Regions from separate parts of the Homo sapiens genome. Here region 1 is linked to region 2. Evidence: fine-mapped expression QTL. Tissue or cell type: whole blood. Region 2 holds a variant in brackets; the other region holds the start of a gene. All regions are shown on one strand. Distances are from middle to middle.

Region 1 (6,396 bases), 32 kb after region 2:
CTGGTTCTTGCCAGCCTCTAGAGAAATCCCAGAACACTCAGCCCTGACACGTTAATACCCTGCACAGATCAGAGGCTGCTGGCCACACAGACTCACCAAGCCACAGACTTGTCTTCCACAAGCACGTTCTTACCTTAGCCACGAAGTGACCAAGCCACACGTACTAAAGGTTGAACTCAAAGATATGTACAGGGTATTAAACAAATACCAAGGGGAACAGTTAACTTCAATACAAGGTCAAAATCAGCAACAAGTTCTACAATCCAGTGCTGATATCAGATACAAGCTTCAAGGACAATTTCTTTTCGAAGGCTTATTCCAGTTTCGTGAGGCTAGCATGAGGTGTGTGCATTTGCCAGGGGCAAATTTCTATTCTCAATTAACCCATGCAGCAAATGCTACGCATCTGCTGAGTCCGTTTAGAAGCATTTGCGGTGGACGATGGAGGGGCCCGACTCGTCGTACTCCTGCTTGCTAATCCACATCTGCTGGAAGGTGGACAGTGAGGCCAGGATGGAGCCACCGATCCACACCGAGTACTTGCGCTCTGGGGGTGCGATGATCTGCAAAGACAGCCAGGCACGGCTTCAGCTCACAGAGCGCCCCCCAGTCAGCTCTCCCGAGCCAGGCAGAGGGCCACCAACCCCTCGACTCACCTTGATCTTCATGGTGCTGGGCGCCAGGGCGGTGATCTCCTTCTGCATCCTGTCGGCAATGCCCGGGTACATGGTGGTGCCGCCCGACAGCACCGTGTTGGCGTACAGGTCTTTGCGGATGTCCACGTCACACTTCATGATGGAGTTGAAGGTGGTCTCGTGGATGCCGCAAGATTCCATACCTAGGGGACAGAGCCCTCCCTTAGTGATGCTGTGTCACCGAGGATGTAAGAGTAGAAACCTTTAGCTCACAACACCTACCCAGGAAGGAAGGCTGGAACAGCGCCTCCGGACACCGGAACCGCTCATTGCCAATGGTGATGACCTGGCCATCGGGCAGCTCGTAGCTCTTCTCCAGAGAAGAGGAGGATGCGGCGGTGGCCATCTCCTGCTCGAAGTCCAGGGCGACGTAGCACAGCTTCTCCTTGATGTCGCGCACGATTTCCCGCTCGGCCGTGGTGGTGAAGCTGTAGCCTCGCTCAGTGAGGATCTTCATGAGGTAGTCGGTCAGGTCCCGGCCAGCCAGGTCCAGACGCAGGATGGCGTGGGGGAGGGCGTAGCCCTCGTAGATGGGCACCGTGTGGGTGACCCCGTCTCCAGAGTCCATGACAATGCCAGTGGTGCGCCCAGAGGCGTAGAGGGACAGCACGGCCTGGATGGCCACGTACATGGCCGGGGTGTTGAAGGTCTCAAACATAATCTGAGAAGGGACAAGGGGCGGCTTAGTCAGGGACAGAGACCCACGGCCACCCCATGCTCACACGCCACAACATGCTGCATGCCAGTGTGATGTGTGGAGAAAAGAAAAGAACGCAGGCAGAAACCAAATGAGAAACCTGGAGGCTTCAGGGAGGAAATGCCGGGAGAGGAACAGAGCCTGGAACAGCGAAAGAAACACTTAAATGTCAGAAATCAAGCCGGGCAGAAAATGACTGGGGAAAGGACGGGAGGAGCACGGGCGTCGGCCGAGCCTCACCTGAGTCATCTTCTCTCTGTTGGCCTTGGGGTTCAGGGGGGCCTCGGTCAGCAGCACTGGGTGCTCCTCCGGGGCCACGCGCAGCTCGTTGTAGAAGGTGTGGTGCCAGATCTTCTCCATGTCGTCCCAGTTGGTGACGATGCCATGCTCAATGGGGTACTTCAGGGTCAGGATGCCACGCTTGCTCTGGGCCTCGTCGCCCACGTAGGAGTCCTTCTGGCCCATGCCCACCATGACGCCCTGCAGGGGACGACCCGTCAGCCTCGCCGGCGACACCGAACCCACCCCGCAACGCAGAACCCAGGAGCCCCGCGGCGCCATCCACTCACCTGGTGTCTGGGGCGCCCGACGATGGAAGGAAACACGGCTCGGGGAGCGTCGTCCCCAGCAAAACCAGCTTTGCACATGCCGGAGCCATTGTCAATGACCAGCGCGGCGATCTCTTCTTCCATTGCGACCTGCCCGGAAAAGGATGGACTCAGGCGGGCGCGTCTGTAACACGGTCCCCTCCCCACAGCCACCTAATGCCCTCCCGCGGGGAAGCCTCGGCCCTGCCCCAACCCCAGCGGCCGTGGCCTCCAAGATCGCAACCGCCTGGAACCGAAGGCCGGGCCTTTTACGTAACGTCCACGGCTCGGAAGTCTGCACTGCGGCCGGGCCCCGCCCTGGACCCCCGGCGCCCCCCCAGCCCCGTCCGCCTGACCCGGCCCACCCCGCCTTTTGTTCCCGGGGAAGGCGCGACGAGGCCTCGGCAGCTGGAAGCGGGGCCAGCCGGGGTCGGGGGGCGCAGGCCTGCGACGTCCAGCTCAGGCCCCGGGGCGGGGCGCTCACCGGCAGAGAAACGCGACGGCGGAGCGGCGGAAGAACAGAGTGCGAGAGCTGGCAGCGGCGACTGAGACCGACCGCGGCCTCCCCCGCCGTTATTTAAGCGGAAGCGGCGCGCCCGCGCGGCCCGGCGGCGCGCGCGGCCCCAGAACATGTCCATATATGGCGATCTTTCCGAAAGCCGGGCACCCATTGGCCCGCCGGGCAGGGACACGTGGGGCCCCGGCCCGCCCCGCCCCCAGCCCGCACCGCCTCCCAACGGCCCCGCCCGCGCCACCCCCGCGCGCTCGCGACCCTGCGCGGGCCGGCGGGCGGGTCTGAGTTGGGGCGCCCTCCGAGGGTCGCCGGGAGGGCCGAAGGGCTGACGGGCCTGGCCCCTCCCCGGGACTGCCGCGCCGTGGGGAGGGCCCTGCTGCGCCCCGAAACTGCCTGACCCGGGGCGGGGCCGCGCCGGAGCTGGGGTGGGTCCCCGAGTCCCCGGCCACGCTGCGGGGCTTTGCTCCCTGGGACGTCCCTTGCAATCTTTCCCCTCGGGCTCCACGAGGATCTCGGGCGCCAGTGCCGGGCTGAGGAAGGGGCGCGGCGGGGGTCCGCGACGCTCTGCGTCCCTGGGCGCGGGGGAGCTCTCAGGAGCCCTCACCTCGCCCCGGTCACCATAGGAAACAGCCCGCCCGTCCCCAAGCGCAGCCACCACCATGCAGGTCCCTCCACGGGGCGCCCTGCCCCGGATCTCCGTTCGTTTGAAGACCGAGGCCCCTTTCTACCCGACCCGACACATCCCTGCCCCTCAAATCACAGGCCTGATTGTCCCCAGGCGCGCGCTCCGGGTTGGGGCTACCCCGCCCCCTTATGTGCTGAGAAGGTGGTGTGGAGTGAGGCCTTTGTTTCATTCTGGTCACCTGTAGACATTATAGGGAAACTGAGGTAGACAATGGGAGCCCTGACTTTTTTGAAGGTCGGCTCCCCAGCTTCGGGCGGTCGGGGGGATACCCTCTTCTGTTTACGATGCTAGTTAAGAGCAGCGATCAGGGCTGGCGTGGGTTTAGCCACAGGCTTGTCCAGGGCGCTCACTCCTCGCCAGGAGCGGCGCCGGTGCTTTGGTTACACCCCGAGAGGCGCCCGGCACTACGGTTTCCTTGTGCGCTGCTGGAATTTTCAGGGTTGGAGCGCCGGCCGCGTAGGGGTGGCAGTGAGGCCGCGCAGTGAGGGGACGGACTCGCCCGAGGTCGCAGAGCGTTCAGATTGACTCGACAGGCTGGGGGGCGGGGCCGGGGTCCCCACGCGGAGTCCGGGGCCCTGCAACGTTAGCTCGCGACCCCGTGTTTGGGAGTGACAACAGCGAGTCAGGGCAAGGCGGCCGGCCCAGCTCACCTGCGGGCTGCAGTCAGCCCGGACGCCGAGACCCGTGCCTAAGGCCCCCGTGCCCCAGGCCTCCCAGGGGTGCTGAGCGCCCCCAGGCCCAGAATCTCCGGGGGCCCGGGCAAGGCTGTCAGGTATGTTCCCTCCCGTGGCGAAGCCGGGGCTGGGCCTCCAACAGACCCACCCGGACTCGCGTCCCTGGGCAGAACCACACAGCCTGCTCGACCCCCGGGTGAGGACTTCCACTTGGGGGGTCCCAAGATGCGACGTCACACACCGAGGGACACGAGGCGGGTGGGGAATAGCCACAAGCCCCTCCATCCTGCGTTCACCCCACACTACGTTCTGCTCCGGGCCGGCCGGGGACCCTGCCCCTCCGGGTCTCTGGTCTCCTCCGAAGCTTCTTTGTCTAGGAAGTGCGGGGAGGTGCCGGCCCCGGGCGCGCGTCCCCGTCCCCCACCTTTCTTCCCCACGTTGCGGACCCGAGGCCGCCAGGGTCGTGGGGGCGGGGGCGAGGCTGGCGCCTCGAGACCCCCGGGTTCCCCGCCACCCGCAGGGCCTGAGCCGCGGGGAGGGGCGGGGAGGGGACGCCGCCGCGGGCCGGGGGTGGAGAGCGACTTCCTCCTCCGCGGCCGCGTCACGCGGCAGGGGTCAAGGTGTGGCCCAGGTACGCGGCGGGGGGCGGTGGCGCGGCCATATTTGGCGACTTCGGCGCCGCCGGAGCCCCGCCCGCCTCCGCCGGGAAGCCCGGCCCGGGGCAGCGCCATCCCCGCCCGCCGCCGGGCCTGAGTCACGGCGGGCGGGGGGCGGAAGTAACGGACGGGGGGCGCCCGCCCGGCGCTCCTGGCCTTATTTAGTCAAGGAGGCCGCCGATTGGCGCGCGGGACAGAGGGGCGGCGGCCGGGCAGCCTCGGGGCGTAGGAGTGGCCCGGCGCCTCCGAGGGGTCGGGGCGGGAGCCGGGCGTGGGGGGCCTCGGAGCCTGGGGAGTCCCGGGACCGACGGCGGCGGGGATGCGGGTCTGCCTGTCCCTGGGATGCGGGCGGGCGGGCAGGGCGAGGCCTGGAGCCCGCGGGGCGCAGGGGGCTGGACCGCGCGCTGTGATTTTTCTGTTTAGCAGCGGGGCCTCGCCCAAGGTCGCGCGGGGCCTGTCCTGGATATGCTCTGGGAAGCCAGTGGCGCAGGGCAGCCGCCACCCTTCTGGAACCAGTGCCGGAGAGGGCCGGGCAGCTGGGCCTGGGGAGGGGACCGCATGGATGGAGCTGGGGGTAGCTGGGCGGCCTCCGGAGCCGGGAGAGTCGGCAGCTGCACTTCCGCCAGAGGTGGGTGTGTCCTTCACATTTCAGGAAGGGAGACTTGGGGCCTGGAGAAGCGATGTGATTTTTCTTTTCTAGTTCAGTGCTGGTTTTGATGGCTTTTTATCATGACCTTGTTATGTCTTATTTTAGTTTCGGCCCATTTAGTGGATACGACAACAGTGGCCCAGGGAGGTATGGCAGAGCTGAGGCTTAACCCAGGGCCTGCGCCCTCCACGGCCTGCACTGCCCCACCTCCAGCTCCTTGCCCTGTTCCTCCCTCTGCACCGGATCAGCCCCCGGACTCTGGGTCACCTCCACACCAGTTGACAGGGCCCCCCAGTCCCCACCGCCAACCACCTGGCCGGCTACTTGTCAGACAGACATGGGGGCGTGGGCATGGGTCCCCACCCCTAGCCTTTGCCTCTGTCACTCTACCTGCCTGGAATGTCTACTTTTTCTTTATATTTTATTTTATTGTATTTTTGAGACAGTCTCATTGTCGCCCAGGCTGGAGCGCAGTGGCGCGATCTTGGCTCGCTGCAACCTCTGTCTCCGGGGTTCAAGCGATTCTCGGGCCTTAGCCTCCCGAGTAGCTGAGACTACAGGCGTGCACCACCATGCCTGGCTAATTTTTGCATTTTTGGTGGAGACAGGGTTTCACCATGTTGGCCAGGCTGGCCTGAACTCCTGACCTTAAGTGATCCACTCGCCTAGGCCTTCCAAAGTGCTGGGATTACAGGCGTGAGCCACCTCACCCAGCCTGGAGTGTCTCATCTTCCACCACTAAATGAAACGATGGACCCTGAACAGAAAAAGGAACAGTGGTGGAAGAACTAGCAAAGCCCACAGCCTTGAGTTTGGCCGTAAGTATCAAGGTTAATCTCTCAGTTATGGCAGTTGTCCCATGACCGTGTAAGATGCCAGGTTAGGGGACACTGGGAATAGAGCATTGGGAAACCTTCCCACTGTCTTTGCAACTTTTCTGTAAGTTTAAAGTTCTCCCATAATAAAAAGCTAACTTGAATCCAAGGCAAGCAAAGCTTCCCTACTCTCAGCCCACCTCCCTCTTCTCCCACACCCTTTTGGACAGATGAAATGCAAGGTGATGGCCCTGTTTCCTGAAGCTCTTTCCAGGGCCTGGCTGGCTCCCTTGGGCAGGTCTGGAGTGGGCTCTGCCTCTTCAGGAACAGTGGTCCCAAGGCTGGTCCCGGTGGGCAAGGCTGGTTTCCTGCAACTCGGCCTGGCTGCCTCTGAGTTTTGGCTCAAGGGACAAGGCCAGGGTCC
Region 2 (8,115 bases):
CCACCCCTTCCTCGGCTACCCCGGCCCCAGCCACTCCTGTCCCTCTCTCTACCCTCCCCCAATGCCCAGAGTCCCCCTCCCAGCCCTTTTCTTCCACCCCATTGTCTTCTCTGCCCCCTTCCTGACCTTGCATTGAGGCTGCAGGCCTCGGGGCCTTCCAGTGACCCACACCCAGCCACGTTTCATTTTCTGAACTTGGGTTTCAAACATGAGGAAGGAACTGAGGCTGGTGTTCCAGGAGCGGCCCCAGCGCTTGCTGGTGGCTGTGTGGGGGCACAGGCCCCCCAGTAAGTCTCCCATCCACAGGGGCATCAGAAGGATGGAGAGGTAGAGTGTCTCCCCCACCCCCCGATTGGCCTATAGGAAAGGACAGACAGTCCCCAGTGCTGGCACCATGTGGGGCAATCAGAACCCACCCACACTGCGGGTGGGAGCAGCGGTCAGGACAGTGGCTTGCAGAGCTAGCAGTGTCTGCTAACATCCACCAGAAACCCCCACTGTCGGGCACAAGGAGACACACACTAGAATGTTTGTAGCAACACTATTCACAGACTTTGGAGATAATCTAAATGTCTGTCAACAAGAGACTTGGTAGATAAAGTGTTACATCCATACAATGGACTACAACACAGCAACGCAAGAGAACAACCACAGACACACGCAGGACGCAGCAATGCAGTGAGCACGGGCAGCATTGTGTGGCGTGAAGGCGCCAGCCTCGGAGAGGACGGCTGTACAGCTCTGCTGGCGCGGACTAAGGATCAGGCAGAGCAGTCTCCGGGATGGGTGGCAGAGCGCTCCTGGGCTTGCATGGGAGGGGGCACGAGGGAGCCTCTAAGGGCTGGGAGTTCTCTGGACCGGGCTGGCGGTTGCACGGATGTGCACGAATGTGAAAGTCCAGTGATCTGCAGCTTAAGATTGGTGCACCTGGCCAGGCGCGGTGGCTCACGCCTGTAATCCCAGCACTTTGGGAGGCCGAGGCAGGCAGATCACGAGGTCAGGAGATCCAGACCATCCTGGCTAACACAGTGAAACCCCATCTCTACTAAAAATACAAAAAAAGATTAGCTGGGCGCGGTGGCGGGTGCCTGTGGTCCCAGCTACTCGGGAGGCTGAGGCGGGAGAATAGGGTGAACCCGGGAGGCAGAGCTTGCAGTGAGCCGAGATTGTGCCACTGCACTCTAGCCTGGGCGACAGAGCAAAACTCTGTCTCAAAAAAAAAAAAGATTGGTGCACCTACTTCACTTTTTTTTTATTTTTTTATTTTTTTGGAAACAGAGTCTCACTCTGTTGCCCAGGCTGGAGTGCAGTGGCACGATCTCGGCTCACTGCAAGCTCTGCCTTCCGGGTTCACGCCATTCTCCCGCCTCAGCCTCCCGAGTAGCTGGGACTACAGGCACCCGCCACCACGCCCGGCTAATCTTTTGTATTTTTAATAGAGATGGGGTTTCACCGTGTTAGACAGGATGGTCTGGATCTCCTGACCTCGTGATCCACCTGCCTCAGCCTCCCAAAGTGCTGGGATTACAGGCGTGAGCCACCGCGCCCGGCCTTTTATTTTATTTTTTGAGACGGACTCCCTCTATTCCCCAGGGTGGAATGCAGTGGCGCAGTCACGGCTTACTGCAGCTTCTTCCTCCTTGGGCTCAAGCAGTCCGCCCACCTTGGCCTCCCAAAGTGTTGGGATTACAGGCATGATCCACCACCCCCAGCCCGGATCCCAGTTTTTGATGTCGGTGGAATTGGAGATGGCAGGCAGGGCCATCTGTGTGCCAGCTGTGGTTGATTAGCAGGGGCTGCCTGGAGAATGATCTGAGGGCCCGAGGCCACCGCTGGGCTCCGTGGGAGAGAGTGGCTGATGGATTAGTGATGTCTGCCACATGCGCTGCAGGAACGAGAGGCAGCCTCCATGTCCCTGAAAGACGGCCATCCTCGCACTAACCTCACAGCCCCCCACAGGCAGCTCACTCCAGCCAAGCCCACCACCACCTCCTCAACTGCAACAAATGCTTATAATGACAGCTCATGTATATTTATCGAGCCTGTAATTACCAAGACAGTGTGCTGCACGTCACCTACATCCCCTCACCCTGCCCAACAACCCTATCATCATCGCCATACCACAGGCGGAGAAGCCAGGGACAGGGGTGCCTCGCCCCAGCCTCCTGATGCCTGCGGCAGAGGCCCAGCTGTGCACAGCCACACTCCCCCGGATGCCACGTCCCTGATCCCCATGGTGGCACCTCCTTGCCCCCTGCTTTTCTTCAGCTTCTCCACCACTCCTACTCCTCCTTGCCCTTCAAAGCCACCTCAAGTGCCACCCCCTCTCTCCTCATTATCCAAGAGTCCTCCCCCTCCTGAGCCTCTCAGGGGACCTGGGCCCGAGCCACCTTATCAGGAACTTGTGCATGGCTGCAGTGTTGGGTCACACATGTCTCCAAGTCTGAACTACATCCTTTCTTCCTTGGGCTCCTGGGGCTAAGCCCAACCTGGCAGACAAAGGCTCCCCTGAGAAGGTTTGATGAGTGAATACATGTCCCCTGCCTCAGAGGGAAGCCCCCATCTCAGGCCTCACACGGGCAGATTCATCCTCCTTCCAGATACAGGCCCCATGAAGGGGCAACAGCAAACAGGATCAGTCCCTGCCCTGGGGAATTACAGTCCCAGCAGTGGCTTGTGACAGCTGCCAAGATGGGCAAGCATTGGAGCATCCAGGAGGACCCCCAGGAAGAGGGCCTGAACAACACCGTGCACGTGCGCTGACACGGGGCATTCCTCGTCCTCAGTCCTGCCTCGTTTTGTGACTCATCACTTTCAGGATGGGAAACCCTCCAAGGAAGGTCCCCTTGGCTCTGGGGTGGCTCCTAGTGGATCTGCAAGAGGCGGGGCCCAGCCTGGTCGTGCCCCATCTTAGGCTGCCTCTGCATGGGCTACACATCCACAAAACAAAGCAAAACAGCAACATTTTCTACGATGCTTTTATTCACACTTCAAAACAGGTGCTGGACATCTTCCCATTGCCCCATGCCAGCCCCTGCTCTGTGCCCCGGGAAGCTGACTGTAGGTACAGGATCCATGGGGCCTCGTTGCTCCCTGGCCTCCACCTAGTTCAGCCAATGCGTAGCCGGTAGACAAGCCAAGCGGTCAGGAGGGGTGAGGTCAGTGTACAGCAGCAGCTCCTCCCTGCCGGGTCGCTGTGTCCCTCTCCAAGGTCAGGGCTCCTGGAGACGGCCTCTCCTGTGGCTCCAGCTGCCCTCCAGGTCTCAGGGGGTAACAGCTCCCCTTTGTTGCTGGCCCTGGGTACTGCACAGCTCTCCTTTAATTCACGTATTTTCCATTTATTCAATTCTCCTCAAATACCCTGTCTGAGGGTGCCATAAAAATGTAAGACTGTGTCAATTGCCCATATCAAAAAACATGCTTGTACGTTCCACTTGAAGTAGTTTGGAGGGGAGACTAATGGAAACTAGGGGGAGGCTAGCCCCCAAGCCTCCGCTGAGGCCACCGCTGTCTGTGTCCCGAGGGCCCTGGAGTAGGAGGTGTCAATGACGGACTCAATGAATGAATGAATTGATCCCACCACCACCAGCGGCAGGCCCGCCTCTTCCTTCCACAGCCCACCTTGGCCTCCCCGCCTCGCCAGGTGGCAAGGCCTTCGCTCCTGGTCCCTGAGCGCCGCTCGCTTCCCTCCCGCGTGGGCAGGGGGCAGCCGCGACGCCGGCCCAGCGCCTCCGAGCCGGGAACCGCACAGCACCCGGCGATGGCCCCGAGCCCCGCGCGCCCGAAGCCACGGCGCCGCTCGCTGGGGGCCTCGGGACGGCAGGGACGGCTGGGGGTGGCGCGGACCGCGTCCCCGAGGCGCGTAGCGCGCGATCGAACCACGCGCCCCGCCCGCTGCGGTCCTCTAACAGCCCCTCGCGCCGCCCCACGTGGGGCCGCACGGGCTGGCGGCCCCCTCACCCGATTGGCCGCCGCACAGCCAATCAGAGAGCGGAGGCGATAGCGGCCGCGCCGATTGGCTGCGGCGGGCCGGCCCGGGGGAGGGGGCGGGACCCCTTTTGTTCTCTCCGCACCTCCGGGTTCGCGCGACTGTGAGCGCCCCCGCCCCGGAGCAGGGGTCCGCGCTGGGGGTCCGGAGGGCGGGGGCGCGGCCCGACGCCCCACCCCCAGCTTGTTCACTGCCGCCAGGGCCCAGCGCCTGAAGCGCGGGTCCTTCGCTGGGACGAGCGCTTTCATCTCCGTCCCTCAGTTTCCCTCCCCTTGTCTTCTCCCTGTGTCCTGGGAGTTATGGGGAAGCTCAGCCCTTGGCAAATGAGCTTGGGACCTTCCTAAAACCTAAGCCAATGATAGGCCCGATCTTGCCTGAGAGGGGCACGTGAGAGACCCCCAAGCTGGAGAGGCAGATGTCCTGGTAACTCTAACCTGAGACCGTTTTCAGGGTGAGCCTTCTCCTAATCACGGC[T/G]GGGGCGTCTTCGTCCAAGGTGGGGCTGGATGGGGGTGGGCAGAGGCCCCCACAGTCACAGCCTGGCCAGCTGTGCAAATGCTCCCCTAAACCGTCCCCCGCTTCAGTCACTCAGCCAACCAATCAATCGCAGGGGCCTCCCTCTGGGGTGGAAAGTGGTGGCCCCAGGGACCAGGGACCTTCACAGGGAGAGAGGGCTGTGGTCCGGGCAGGGGCGTCAGGGGTTCAGCCTGGGTCTCCTGACCTCCAGGCCCACGTCTTCCCTTAGACAACACCTGAGAGCATCTCCCAGCGTGGCTGTGGCCACACACATCCCTGGGAGTAGGACGGGCCACCGCGCTGAAGCTGTGGATGCAGGGCTCCCAATCTGTAGGCGAGGGGCCTCTCCCCTGCAGGGGACAGGATCAGGACCCTGGGAGCCCTCAGTCCCCCTCCCAGCACTGATTACCTGGAAAACCCCCCGAGCCCAGGTTGATGAAGAAGGTGGGACCCTGACAGTGAGTGGCCTGAGCCTGGGATGGTAGCTTGACCTCATCTCCAAGGTCATCCTCCCAGACCTGGGAGTCTAAAAACATTAAATCCTTCAGAAGGACATATTTGCATCAGATCACTGTTCAGAACGCCACTGGTGCCATTCACGGAGCAGTCCCTGGGCTGAAGTGGCTGCTCTGGTCTGGTGAGCGGGGGCACCCACGCGAGCTCCCAGGCCCAGAGGCCTCCCCCAGATCCTGGTGTTAGTGGCCCATGGAAGGACTCCCAGCCCCAGAGGCTTGGCAGGTGTCTGCGGCTCCCCAGGGGTGGGGTGCTGGGAGGCTGACATCTGTGGAGTGTTTTTACTGTTGAACAAATTGAATCAATTAAACAGGCCCCATCGGGGTGGCTGGGAGCGGTGAACAGGAGGAAAGAGGGGAGCGGAGCCAAGAGGACAGCCTGAGGGCGTCTGTCTCCCCAGGCGGGGTTCAGACGCACCTCTTTCCCTGAATGTTCCAGGGCAGGAGACCCCCCGTGTTGACAAGAGGGAGGTGAGTTAGTGGAGGGGGAGTGGGAGGAAAGTCAGTGGGGACTGTCCCTGTTGTGTGTCCCCTGAAAGCACGCCAAGGCCTGTGTCTCCTACCCAGCCACCTCTGGGCTTCTCAGCCCCCAGCCCTGTGATGACCCTTTGGACATCCCAGCCTCCTTTCAAAGACATTTTATTGCTCTCACAAGGAGGCCTCCGGAAGCTGGGAGGCTCCAGCAGAGAAAGAGAGGAGGCTGCCTAGGGAGGCTGGAGGAGGCAGAGAGGAAAGAGGAAACATTGTGGGGGTAATAGCAAGGGCCCCGGGTCACCCACCTGGAGCGGAAGCCTCCCCCTCGGGCAGGCTGAGAATGACGCAGGCGCCGGCTGCTCTGTGACCCAGCTGACCGAGGGACAGCCCCTGCCTGGGAGCTCCAGCAGCTGCTGCAGCGTCCCTCCTGCCCAAGCAAGGGCCGCAGGGCCACCCCTCCAATCCGTCCCCAGAGGTCCACTGCCGCTGCCTCTCCTCCAGCTGCCGCTCAGGGGAGCGAGGTTTCTTGAGTCAGGCCACCGGCAGCGGGCGGCCAGCCCCTCTCAGCATGGCGCTTGCCCAGGGCCTGGGCTCCGTCACATGCCAGGACAGTGGTCACCGTCACCCTGGACAGACCACCTCTGTCCCTTTATGTCAAGTGACCATTATTGGGCCCCCTGAGGCAGACGAGCGTCTCACCAGTAAGCTCCCAGGGAGGACGGCGTGGTCAGGACCTGCCCATCCGCCAGCACTCTGGCCTCTAGGCCCGCAGGCTGAGGGCACCGGCGGGCACCAGAACAGGGGCTGGTTTGGCCGAGGGACCTGCTTCTTGGGCAGCACCAGGAAACAGCCGGAGACCCTCCCAGCGCCCACATCCATGGCGTGAGCCCCGCGTGGGTGCAGCCCCTTCCGCAGCCCGAATTCCAGGCCAGCCGCTGCAGGAGGGACCGCCAGCCAGGGGCGCAGGGCAGAGGGTGGGGGAAGGCGTGGCGCTCGCGCTCTCGGCTCTTGCTTGGATGGCGCCGGCTGAGGACCCCCACACCTGCGCTGCGGTGCAGAGGTCTTAGGATCCGAGGGGGCTGCCGGTCTGGGCCGGCGCGTTCAGGCCCCGGGCGGTGGGGCGGCCTCGGCGTGCGTGGCTCGGTTGCCTGCAGGCAGGCACGCGGCGCTGTGAGAAACGAACGTCCGTGACTTAGCCCACGGGACCGTTTCTGCATTTTCACCCCAACCTGGAGAGCTGCAGCACAGCCGCGGGACAGGAAGTCGCCGCCAGGTGGGTCAGGACTGCGACCTGAACTCGGCTCTGCGGCCTCCCGCTCCGGCCGCCGGTTCGCAATCCTGGCGTGAACCAGCAGATCAACCTCCGGCGCCCGCCACAGGCGCCCTCCCGCGGGAACCGGCAGGCAGGAGCGGTGCGGGGGCGCCCTCCAGCGGCCGTGGCCGGGATGGCGGCCTCCTGCCAGGCTCCAAGCGTGGCCGCGTGGGCAGCGCGCGCAGCCCGCCACGGAAAGACAGGCGCTCCTCCTGGGTGGGCCTTGGGACCCCTTCGCGCCCTGTGTGGCCGCCTCGTGGTGAGCACCCCCGCCCCTCCCTGCAAGGCCGGTGTTCCCAGCTGGAAGGGCAGGCAACCTGGGAACCAGAGGGAGCTGCTCTGGTTGGGAGGAAAAAGCCAGCTCGGTTCCCGCCTGAGCCCCGAAGGGGCGGGGCTGGGAAGGGGGCCTGGCCAGAGGGAAGGAGCACTCTGGGTTGGGGGTGCTGGGGGAGCACAAAGGCAGGAACTGGGGAGCATAAGGCCAGGAGATAGGGGAGAACCTAGGCAGGAGCTGGGGGAGCAGCCAGGCAGGAACTGGGGAGCATCGATGCAGGAGCTGTGTCGCGTGTTATCCCCGTCACGTGGAGTTGTGTGTCCTGCGAGGAGCACAGCATTTCAGGGCCTAGAGCCCCTCTCTGTACTGGAGCCGCCTGTGTGTGTCCATTCCGAATGAGCCATACTTCCCTCGCAGCTCTCCCAGTGGGATTGAGAACTGTTAGGCACACACCTGGTGAAGCATTGCTGCCCTTTCTGTTGGGGAGAAGCGGCCTTCTAGCGCAGAGAATAGCTGCTTCCTGGAACTGAAATCCTGCCGCATCCAGACCAAGAGCATGCTTGGAGCAGGCATCAGTGCACACACTGCTTCCGAAATTACAGCTATAAATTTTAAAAAAATTTTTTTTTCAAGGCAGGGTCTTGCTCTGTGGCCCAGGCTGGAGTGCATTTGCACCACCATGGCTCATGGCAGACTCAACCTCCCTGGCTCAAGCCACGCTCCCACCTCAGCCTCCCAAGTGGCTGGGACTACAGACACATGCCACCACACCTGGCTAAATTTTTTTTTTTTTTTTTTTGAGACAGAGTCTCACTCTGTCACTCAGGCTGGAGTGCAGTGGCGCAAACTCTGCTCACGGCAAGCTCCGCCTCCCGAGTTCACGCCATTCTCCTGTCTCAGCCTCCCGAATAGATGGGACTACAGGTGCCCGCCACCACGCCCAGCTAATTTTCGTATTTTTAGTAGAGATGGGGTTTCACCGTGTTGGCCAGGATGATCTCGATCTCCTGACCTCATGATCCACCCGCCTCGGCCTCCCAAA

The links. PIP is the estimated chance that this variant, and not a neighbour inherited with it, causes the effect.
Region 1: it holds the start of ACTG1, and the variant in region 2 is fine-mapped to the expression of ACTG1 in whole blood (TOPMed, PIP 0.93).

Annotation. Positions count from the first base shown.
Region 1 is chr17:81,510,271-81,516,666 of GRCh38, forward strand. It overlaps ACTG1 (actin gamma 1), which reads right to left and starts at 2,529. Exons shown (of 6, transcript NM_001614.5): 1 at 2,464-2,529; 2 at 1,962-2,090; 3 at 1,633-1,872; 4 at 918-1,356; 5 at 657-838; 6 at 1-563. The coding sequence starts at 2,084. The coding sequence ends at 420. It also overlaps a transcript of FSCN2 not described here. RefSeq lists enhancers at 1,975-2,064, 3,275-3,554, 3,585-3,634, 4,777-5,400, 5,401-6,026 and 1 more and silencers at 2,285-2,454, 2,655-3,134, 3,765-3,954, 4,175-4,894, 4,965-5,014.
Region 2 is chr17:81,477,561-81,485,675 of GRCh38, forward strand. LINC01971 (long intergenic non-protein coding RNA 1971) reads right to left here and starts at 3,906. Exons shown (of 2, transcript NR_184097.1): 1 at 3,622-3,906; 2 at 2,965-3,365. RefSeq lists an enhancer at 6,069-6,719, a cis regulatory region at 6,623-7,420 and a silencer at 6,778-7,187. The variant T/G (reference allele first, on the strand shown) is at 4,463.